2 separate regions of the Homo sapiens genome follow, and region 1 is linked to region 2. Evidence: fine-mapped expression QTL. A gene starts in region 2. The other region holds a variant in brackets. All regions are shown on one strand. Distances are between the middles of the regions.

Region 1 (5,000 bases), 38 kb after region 2:
CACATGGTTACATAGCCTCCCATTTAATTCAGGGCTACAAACCTTTATACAAAGGACTTGGATAGATGCTTGTTCTAGAAAGATCTACCCGATTTTGTCCCATTACTTCTCTGATCTCATCTCCAACCACTCTTTCCCTCTCTTACCTGCACTTGCCTGACTGTCTTCCTTTCTGGTCCTGAGCCTCAGGGCCTTTGCACCTCCTTCAAATAAGTACTCAAATGATACTTTCTCAATTATACCTGTCCTGACTACCTGTTTAAGATTATAAACCACCACCAAAACCACTCACACATTTTATCCCCCTTTTTTGTCCATAATAACTATCACTTTATTACAATAGACTATATTAATTTACTTACTTACAGTGTTCATTTTCTGTTTTACCCAATTAGACTATAAGTTCTACAAGGACAAGAATTTTGTCTGCTTTGTCCAGTGAGCCTGAACCAGTGCCTGGCACATAGGAGATAATAAATCAATATCTATCTAATTAGTTGTTATCAGAAGGATTTTTCATCTGAAATGGGCATTCTCATCTTTCACTGAAAGGTACATAATGTCAAACTGTGTCAGTATTATTTACATAATGTCAAACTGTCAATATTTTGTTCATATGTAACCATGTCAATATTAATAATCATTAATTATAAGAAACTAACTTTAATGTGCCCCATAAATACAGTTGGTATTAAGGTCATATATGTGCATGTTGGTTTTACCTTGATAATAGATGAATGTTTTCCAAACTGTTTTGCCTAGAGTACTAGGTCCAAAGAGATTCTATAAGAAAAAATGTCCCTTTGATAGATAAATTTTGAAAATGCTGCATACAATATCTCCCCTCTTGGGTGGTCACAGCTAATATTAATGATTCTTAGAAACCTGCTTAAGGAAGTAAGAAGCCTTGCAAGGCTTTGAAAATTTTGTTAAACACAGTATTTCCCAGATGGACCTCATAATCCTTTCCTCATATAATGTTTTTCCACAATTTCTATAAGATTCTTTCAATGTCCATAAAAGCCACTTTAGAAAAGTCTAAATTTTCTGGTTCTATTCGCAGCTACTTACATATTTCCTGAAACTTGTATCCACTGCTTGTTTTTTTTCAATGTCCACCAGTTATTCTATCTGGAAGCAGTTCTTAGAATCTGCTTCTAGCAGGCATTCTACTTCCCACCTTTAATCCCAGAAGGGATTACTCAACTGCTTTGACAAAAGAGAAACCCAGGCTTAGAAGGTGAAGTCATTTACCCAAAGATAATGATTTGAATCCAGATTAAATTGGCTTCAGAACCTATATTTGTAACTATTAGCCTGTACTTGGTCTTCTCTTTCTAGTTAAACTGTCTTCCAAGGAAGAGATGAAGAAACAAATTCTCAGCTACTTTGGCATATCTGCAAAAGCCTGAAAGCTCTGTCAAATATTCAGCACAATAATTCTGCAACACTTCAGATGGTCACCTAAACCTGCCAATAGATCTGCTTTGACCAGCTACTCAGGTTGAGCAGAAACTTTTAACTCTCAACCTCCAAGATAATAAATGTTAATGAGATGATAATTTACTCCCTTGAATTGTCATTTAAAACATTCTTTGATCCTCTTCCCTTCATGGGGGAGGGGGGAACCACATCCCCTTTTTTTGAATCTGGGTAGGTTTACAGTCCAACAGAGTACAACAGAGATGATGCTGTGAGACATCTGAGGCTATTATAAAGACCATGTGACTTCTTTATTGTTCACTGTAGCGCTTGTTCTTGAAACCCTGAGCTGCCATATAAGAAATTCTACTAGCCAGAGGCCTCCATACTGGAAGGCCATGTATAGATGTGCCTGTTCACAGTCCCACTGGAGTGTACCTTCCAGCTTTCCTCAGGAAAGAAACAGAAACTAGAAGAACCCTTCTTGGACCTTACAGATTGAACATCTGCCAGTTGAATACCAATAAACAACCTTTGTCAACAATACATGGAACAGAAGAATCACCTATGCAAGCCCCACTCAAGTTCTTTACCCATAAAGTCATGATATAATGATACGGTTATTGTAAACCCTACAACGTGCTTACAAGTGTTTGTTGCCTGAAACAGACAAGTGAAACAACAACTCTGCAAATACAATTAAATTATCAGTAATTCCATAATCTTATAATTATAGTTTCTTAGTAAAAATATTATTTTCTTTATGAATATGTAAATTGACTAAGTGA[G/A]TTTCCTAATGTGAAAGAGTCTAAAAGGGAATCTCAACATGCTGACTGGTATTTTATGAGTCTACATTTGAGGAATGTCTGTCCATTGCCAATACAACTTTTTAATATGACATGAAGTGGTGGGAAGACGATGGACTACAAGTCTGGGTTCTGGTCTTACTTCTGCCACTTTGTAGCTATGAGACCTTTGCTAAATCTTTTAACTTCTCTAAGCCACAGTTTTGTCATCTACGAAATAAAATAATAGTATTCTGTCCTACTTACCTAACGTAGTGGTAGAAAAGATCAGATGAAATAATGAGCATGAAAATGGCTTTAAATGTAAAGTACAGTGCAAGTGCATGGACTTAGTATTGTCACGTGATGTTAACCACTATGAAATTTTAACAATGGTTTCCATGTTGTCAGATTCCATGGCCGCATCTCTGATCTCACCTTCTTCATCCCCTGGGTAGCAGCATTTGCCACTGGTGACCAGTCCCTCTCTCAGTAGCCTTTTCATACCCTTGGCTTCCTTTTTTTGTTGTTTTTTGTTTGTTTGTTTTTTGAGACGGATCTCGCTCTGTCACCCAGGCTGGAGTGCAGTGGTGCAATCTCAGCTCACTGCAACCTCCATCTCTAGGTTCAAGAGATTCTCCTGCCTCGGCCTCCCAAGTAGCTGAGATTACAGGCACATGCCAACATGTTCAGCTAATTTTTGTATTTTTAATAGAGACGGGGTTTCACCACGTTGGCCAGGCTGGTCTCGAACTCCTGACCTCAGGTGATCTGCCAGTCTCAGCCTCCCAAAGTGCTGGGATTACAGGCATGAGCCACCGTGCCCGGCCATCCTTGGTCTCCTTGACACTTGGTTTCTTCCCAGCTCAGAGGTCAGTCCTCTGTTTTATTTGCACACCTGTCTTCTTCTTTCAGATCTGTTAATACTGGAACAACCCAATGCTTGGCCCAGTGGCCCTCCATTCTTCTCTGTCTGTATTCTCTCCCCTAAGAGATCTCATCCAGGACAATGACATTAAATAACAATGATATTCTGATAACTCTCAGAAGCATGCCTCCCACTTTGGCTTCTCCACTGAACTCCAGACTTAAGTATCCAACTGCATGGACAACACTGCCACTTGGCTGTCTAAAAACTATCTTGTACTTAAATGGGAACTACTGATTCCCTCCTGCTGCTCCAAATACACTAGTTTCGGTTTTCGCCATCTCCATAACTTGAACTTACAGTCAGGGCCCCTGCATGGTATTGTGCAAGTTATGAAGAATGCAACCTACACAGCATTCTACGGCACCCCTGCTTTAATTCATGGAACTGCTCACACCAAAACCACAGGTATTATTCCTGAGTTCTCTTATAACCTGACTGTTGACATAACTCTAAATTCTCCAAACAACTCTGCTGCCATCCCAGTTCAAGCTCTCATCTTCATCCTGGGCCAGTGCAACACTTCACAAACAGGCTTCCCGCTGATACCCCTCGTCCCTCTTAACATCCATTTTCCACCCAGCAGTAAGAATAACTTTTATTATAAAAAGAGATCGTGCCTTTTTCAGTGGCTCGAAATCCTCCAATGGTTTCCTGGTACACTCAAAATAAAACCCAAGCTTCTCATCTTGGCCTGCAAGACCTGTAACGGCCTGGCCCCAGCCAACTCTGCAGCTGCACCCCATGGCACTGTCCCCTCAGTCACTCCATTCATCCTGGCCACTTTCTGCTCCTTGAATATGACACATCACCATATTTTTTTATAATACATTCCAGAGCTAGCCAAGAATGGGGGGAAAAAATAAAAGTAGTATACCTTCATGTTACTGAAGTTCCTTTTGTATCTATCTCGTTTCTGGAAGAGGGAAGTTGCCAGTGGAGAGACTTCCAGACCCATCTGGGCCATGCACTCTGTTTCTCTAAATAAGATTAATATCTGAGGGTCAAAGTTTACAAACAATTCCCCTGTGCCTGGAGCCTTCACCAATAATGAAGCCTCAAGACCTACATGAATTTCTTCAATCTGTGGGAAGAAACCAACATCATTACTATCAGAAAGTTCAATTCATGCAGAGTATCTAGCTCAGCTATCTCTAGGAATAAGGATCATTAAATGTTCTTCCATGGATTTGAGCTTCCTAAATTAAGGGCAATAAGATCACTCACTCTTCTCCTAAATCCAGTCTCATACAATAGCCTTCAAGTTCTTGGTGTTGATGTTGGGCAGTCAATTCAATAAAACCTTTCAATGACTCTAACACTGATAAATAAGTGGACACTGCAACAGTGGTGGCGTCTCAAAAGCCATTTAGCTACCTGATACCTTCATGCCTACTCTATTATTCTTCCTAATAAAAGTTTCGTAAGACCTCCTAAACTCAGTTTTTACTTATCTAGAAAAACAATGAACACAGCTATGGAGACATCGCATCCTGACAGCCTACAAAGAAATACATGTATTGGTAGGATATGCTATGATTAACCAGTTGTACAACAAAAGAAAATTTGAAACTTTGTTTAACAGATGTGCTAGTGTTTACTGACATATTTAGGATCTGACTGAATTTTAAAAAGCAAGATATCCTAATAGATTGGGCATAGGAACCAATAAACAAGATCTTCTCACTTTGGAGTTCGTAAATTAAATAAAAATGGGGTTCTGTTACCTGGCTTGTGGTTTCTTTTCAAATCTAATAATTATTTTTCTTTGTGGACATATTACACTCTGAACGCTTAGATTCAACCCATCTGCCTTACAAAACACCTACAAATCCAGCTTTCTAAAGAAATAACACTGTCAAATG
Region 2 (5,000 bases):
CAGAAAACTAGCACAGGAATGGAAAACCAAACACTGCATGTTCTCACTCATAAGTGGGAGTTGAACAATGAGAACATATGGGCACAGGGAGGGGAACATCACACACTGGGGCCTGTCAGGGGGTGTGGGGCAAGGGGAGGGATAGCATTAGGAGAAATACCTAATGTAGATGACAGGTTGCTGGGTCCAGCAAACCACCATGGCACCTGTATTCCTATGTAACAAACCTGCACATTCTGCACATGTATCCCAGAACTTAAATATAATTTAAAAAAAAAATCCAAACCTCCTACTTAAAACCTTTAAGAAAAGAAGATGAAAAACATGCACAAATACAAATCAAAAATAAAGTAAAATTTTAGTGAGTGAATACATTTCACTATTGCCTCCAAAATAAATGGTCTGCAGTCTGATTTTATCTGTCATCTGTAATTAAACTGAAAACTAACCAAAAAAGAAGTTCAGAAACCTATGTGATGAAAACATTTAAAATAATCATGCTTCTAAAACTGAAATATATTGTTAAAATGTTATAATCTTGCATACGACTTAAGGTAATTGAATAAGAATCCTTGAGAATTGGTTAAAATGTTCATTTAAAAATCTCAAAATATACTCCATATATACCCAGTAAGATGATTACGATTTGATGATAAATATATACTTGACATCTTGAAAAGAAGGTCTTTTTGTTTTGGAGATTTTTTCTGCACATTTCCACCCCTCAATTTTACTGTACAGATATAATTGGGTACATTGTATAGTATGCATTACTTTAAAATGTCTGTAGTAGAAAAACTTAGCCTACCATTGTCAAGATAACTGCACCATAATTCTACACTGTTCCAAATTCTACCTTGAAATTATCTAAAGAAGCATATCAATTATGCGACCACTTATTTTTTGTTTTTTTAACCCTCTATCTCCTATCAAACCTCCACAGTTTTACAGCATTCTTACTCTGATTGTCACCCCTTTCCTTTCCACAATTCCTCACTCCCTTTGAAGAATAACAGCATTAACAGTGACAACAAAAAGATTGAAGGAAGGGGGTTCAATAGAAGTGGAATATTATTGCATTATTTAAGGGGGTAATCGCTCTGAGAGCTTTCTCTGAAAAATCTGATGAAATCATAAAGAAGATTACAAAACCTTGGGCAGCTGCTTGGCAATGTCTCCTCCCACAAAGACAGCTTCTAAATAAATCCACAGGTTTTGCACCGTCATCCAGCTCTCGATGATGTCTGTTGAGTTGGAAAGGTACTGCACCCATTTTTGAATCTGGGCTTTGAATGGCATATTGTACCTAAAATAAGAAATAGGTTTAGGGTTTGGTTTTGTTTTTGTTGTGCTGTTGTTTCAAATTAAAAAGGTTTTTAAAAATCTTAATTTTTAACCGCTTTCTTTACAACCTTAATTATGTTGCTGGCTTTTAAAGTGATGCAACCAAGTGATTAATTCATCCCCACTTACTGTTCATTGTTAGTCTAGCTTTTTCCCTTTTGATCCAGAGCATAGAGAAGGGTGGGAGATTTATAATCTAAGGAGTAGATCAGGCATTAGACTTGATTCCACCAAGCTTCCAGGGTAATATAATTACCCTCAGTGCTGCTATGGCTACGAGAATAATATTTGCCCTACTGAGCTTCTGTGCCTATTTCATGGAGTCTCTGGTTTTTCATATAATATGGAGCTTTTATAGAACCATCAGTGGGGACCAGACAACTAATTCAATCTTCAAATATGATAACACCTGGACTCTCTCCTTAGCCTCCCCTTTTCTGAGTCTCTTTCTAACTTCCCACGCACCTGTGTCCAACCCACTCATGTTTGATGTACATGTGTGCAAGATTACTGCCTCTTCCATAGTTAATCTGTCTTCCCCTTTTCCTCTTTGAGACAGACTGCCTGTGGGTGGCCTCCCAATGTCCTTTTTTCCTTCTGCTTTTCCATGTGGGCTCATAATTACCCAGCTAAATTACTGAATTTCCCAGCTTCCCTTTGCAGTAATGTGCAGTCAGAAGACTAAGTTCCACATCAACAGTGCTTAATTTAGCGGAACACTGGAATGATCTCATAGCTGAACACTGGAATCATCTCGCCAGCATTAAAAATTACTGATGCCTGCCTGGGTCCTACGTACAGAGACTCTGATTCAATGGGTCTGGGAAGTGGCCCTGGCATTGGGATTTTTTTAAGTTCCTTCAGTGTATCTGGTACGTTGCAAAGATTGAGAACAACTCTTCTACATGAAATGTGAGTAGTGGCATTGGATGTAATGGGTAGTATGGGGAATAAGGTCACACCTGGGAAAGACAGATGAGTGAGCCAGACCAAGCTTGGGTCCCTGATGATGTGGTAAAGCCCCCATTCCAACCTGAACCACCTACATTAGGAATTCTTTTATGCGTGAGCAATATAAACATCAGTGTTATATTAGCCATTTTGTATGTGGTGTTTCTGTTATTTACAGACAAACTTAATCCTAAATGATTATACAGCCTACCTTTGTGTCTCTTCTTCTCTTTCTTATCCCTTCATGGTTCTCTCTAGCCCTACATAATATGGACTTGAAGTCGTATTATTGCATAAAAGTTTAATTTCCATATTCTTAATTGTTAACCAAATTGTTTTAATATTCCATGCATCTTTCTGAATATTTGTATGCTCTTCACTAGAAATATAGGTCCATAGAAACAGAGATCTTTCCCTTATTTGTTGTTCTACCCACAGCGCCTAGAAGAGTACATCACACACATAGTAAAGGTTCAATAAATATATATTGAAAAAATACTCCTCCCAATAACTCTATCTGTAGATTAGATGCCATTGAAAAGAAAAGTTTCCCCACCCCAACCAGATAATTTTTACTTAATTTACATGAGTGTCTTTTCTATCTCCCTAGGGTATATTATTGCCTGTCTATCCTTTATTCTGGTTTGGTATGAATAGTAACCAAGTTCATTAAAACTCACTAAATCCTGAGAAGTCCAAACTCAAGATTACTAATGGTCTAACTTTATATCCCAATATTACTTTAGTGTAACAAGTAAACTGAAATAAGAGAAATTTTTTTGAAATAGTATGAAGTACACAGTATTTCCAACATTAAAAGTATTGATACACATATATATGGAGAATTGGGTGATATTTTAAAGCTAGAATAGAACAACAAATTCATATCTCAATGGTATCCACTTTCTGCACAATTACCATATATTTGAGAAGATTCTGGGGAACAAAAACATTATTTCAGAAAGAGCAAATGGAAGCAATGAAACAAGGAAATGTAAATTCATGACTGTGTGGTTTGTATGTCCAAAATGTGAGGGGTGGCCACTATGCATTATATACATGTAATGAAAGTTCACATGTGGACAGGCACAGTGGCTCATGCCTGTAATGCCAGCATTTTGGGAGGCCAAGGCGGGCAGATCACCTGAGACCAGGAGTTTGAGACCAGCCTGGCCAACATGGTGAAACCCTGTCTCTACTAAAAATACAAAAATTAGCCAGGCGTGGTGGCTGTTGCCTGTAATCCCAGTACTCAGGAAGCTGCGGCAGAATCACTTGAGCCAGGGAGGCTGAGGTTTCAGTGAGCTGAGATCACGCCATTGCACTCCAGCCTGGGTGACAAAGCAAGATTCCATCTCAAAAAAAAAAAAAAAAAAAAAAAACAAGTTCAAATGTACCCCATAAATTTGTACAAATATAAAAAATAGAGTATGTAAACAACTAAGAGTTTCTAGTCCACAGATATTGGTAAAAAAGGTTTTTCGAGTAAAATGATTATTCTGAAATTCAAAATAATGTTCCTCCTGGATTCTACAGCCTGTAGAGCTATGAGCTGTGCAGTCAGGCTTGTCAGCAGCAAGCTGAAATGTTCCCAAGAGCCGAGTGGCTAATTATACGTTGCATTATTTTGTCCAGTGGATGGTCTCAGACATACCCCACAAATAGAGGATAATGAAATAAAACCAGAGTTACACATGCTCTAACATGTGCCTGAGGCCAAAATGAAAACAAGAATAATTGAAATATAATCTCTTGATGATGTATATATAAGTGGGTACCTGAGTAAAAATATGTTTTGGATATAAAAATTAATTAATCAATGTAATTAAAACAAGTATTTTCAACATTGAGTAAACTATATGAAGGCTATTATTGTAATGGATTTTTCATTAATTTTAAATGTTTGCTATTACGGTTCTCAAATCTAAGGGAAAAGATAGATGGTTTTCCCACCTGTTGCTCAGTAGGGATCCCAGCAACATCAAGCTGTCCTCCATGTTGGCGATGATTTCCGAGGTACTGTCTCCTCTCAAGAGGAGCTCTCCACGGGTTTTAAAGCTGCCGAAGGTGAATGTTTTATTGTCCCATTCATTAATCACTTGCTTCAGCTTTTGCTCAATGTCTCTCTCTTTCACCGCACTGATACAGATGTCCTATCAAAATGGCAAGCTCTCATGTTATTGCATGAAAGTCACACGTCCTTCCTTAATAGTCTACGTGCAATACCCCATCTTCACTATTTGCTTCATATATATATAAATATATATATAAACTTTTATATTTCCAGACCTAAAATGCAATATAATAAACAGAAGGTGTATACGCAGATACTGATGCATGAAGAGAGATGGAGATAAAGATATGACTGAAAAATAGAACTTTAATTTATAAAATTTCCCAGCAAACTTGCCCAAAAGGAAAGATGACAGAAAATATATGCAAATCACTTTTAAATTTTGAAACTTTAATCACTGATTCAAAATTCAATGTATTTCTGATCTACCTCTAAAGTCAAGTGAATGCAGCATGTGAATGAACACAGGTAGCAGAAACCTGATTCTCCCATGGCTCTGTTGACTTTCCCAGTCTCCTCATGGCCTCAACCTTCTCCTAGACCATTAGTCAAGCCCTTCCTTTACCCTCATTTCTTCCCACCTATGTTCCCCCTCTGGGTGAGCTCATTTACACCCATGACTTCAATCACT

Alleles and levels. Positions count from the first base shown, and alleles are read on the strand shown. Sizes are in standard deviations (SD) of each study's normalised expression.
For the expression in prefrontal cortex of the gene that starts at base 2,140 in region 2, allele G in region 1 goes with a lower level than allele A (moderate effect, 0.56 SD a copy in GTEx).

What was found. PIP is the estimated chance that this variant, and not a neighbour inherited with it, causes the effect. A credible set is the group of variants that fine-mapping cannot tell apart.
Region 1: its variant is the best candidate, but not a certain one, in a credible set for the expression of DNAH5-AS1 in prefrontal cortex (GTEx, PIP 0.51).

What each region holds. Positions count from the first base shown.
Region 1 is chr5:13,896,194-13,901,193 of GRCh38, forward strand. DNAH5 (dynein axonemal heavy chain 5) reads right to left here. Exons shown (of 79, transcript NM_001369.3): 15 at 4,013-4,219. It overlaps DNAH5-AS1 (DNAH5 antisense RNA 1), which reads left to right. Exons shown (of 3, transcript NR_199035.1): 2 at 396-552; 3 at 1,342-4,859. Among named protein-coding and RNA genes, the nearest start is that of DNAH5-AS1, 38 kb to the left of the region's middle. The variant G/A (reference allele first, on the strand shown) is at 2,211.
Region 2 is chr5:13,858,300-13,863,299 of GRCh38, forward strand. It overlaps DNAH5-AS1 (DNAH5 antisense RNA 1), which reads left to right and starts at 2,140. Exons shown (of 3, transcript NR_199035.1): 1 at 2,140-2,256. DNAH5 (dynein axonemal heavy chain 5) reads right to left here. Exons shown (of 79, transcript NM_001369.3): 29 at 4,249-4,448; 30 at 1,153-1,306. RefSeq lists an enhancer at 568-1,767.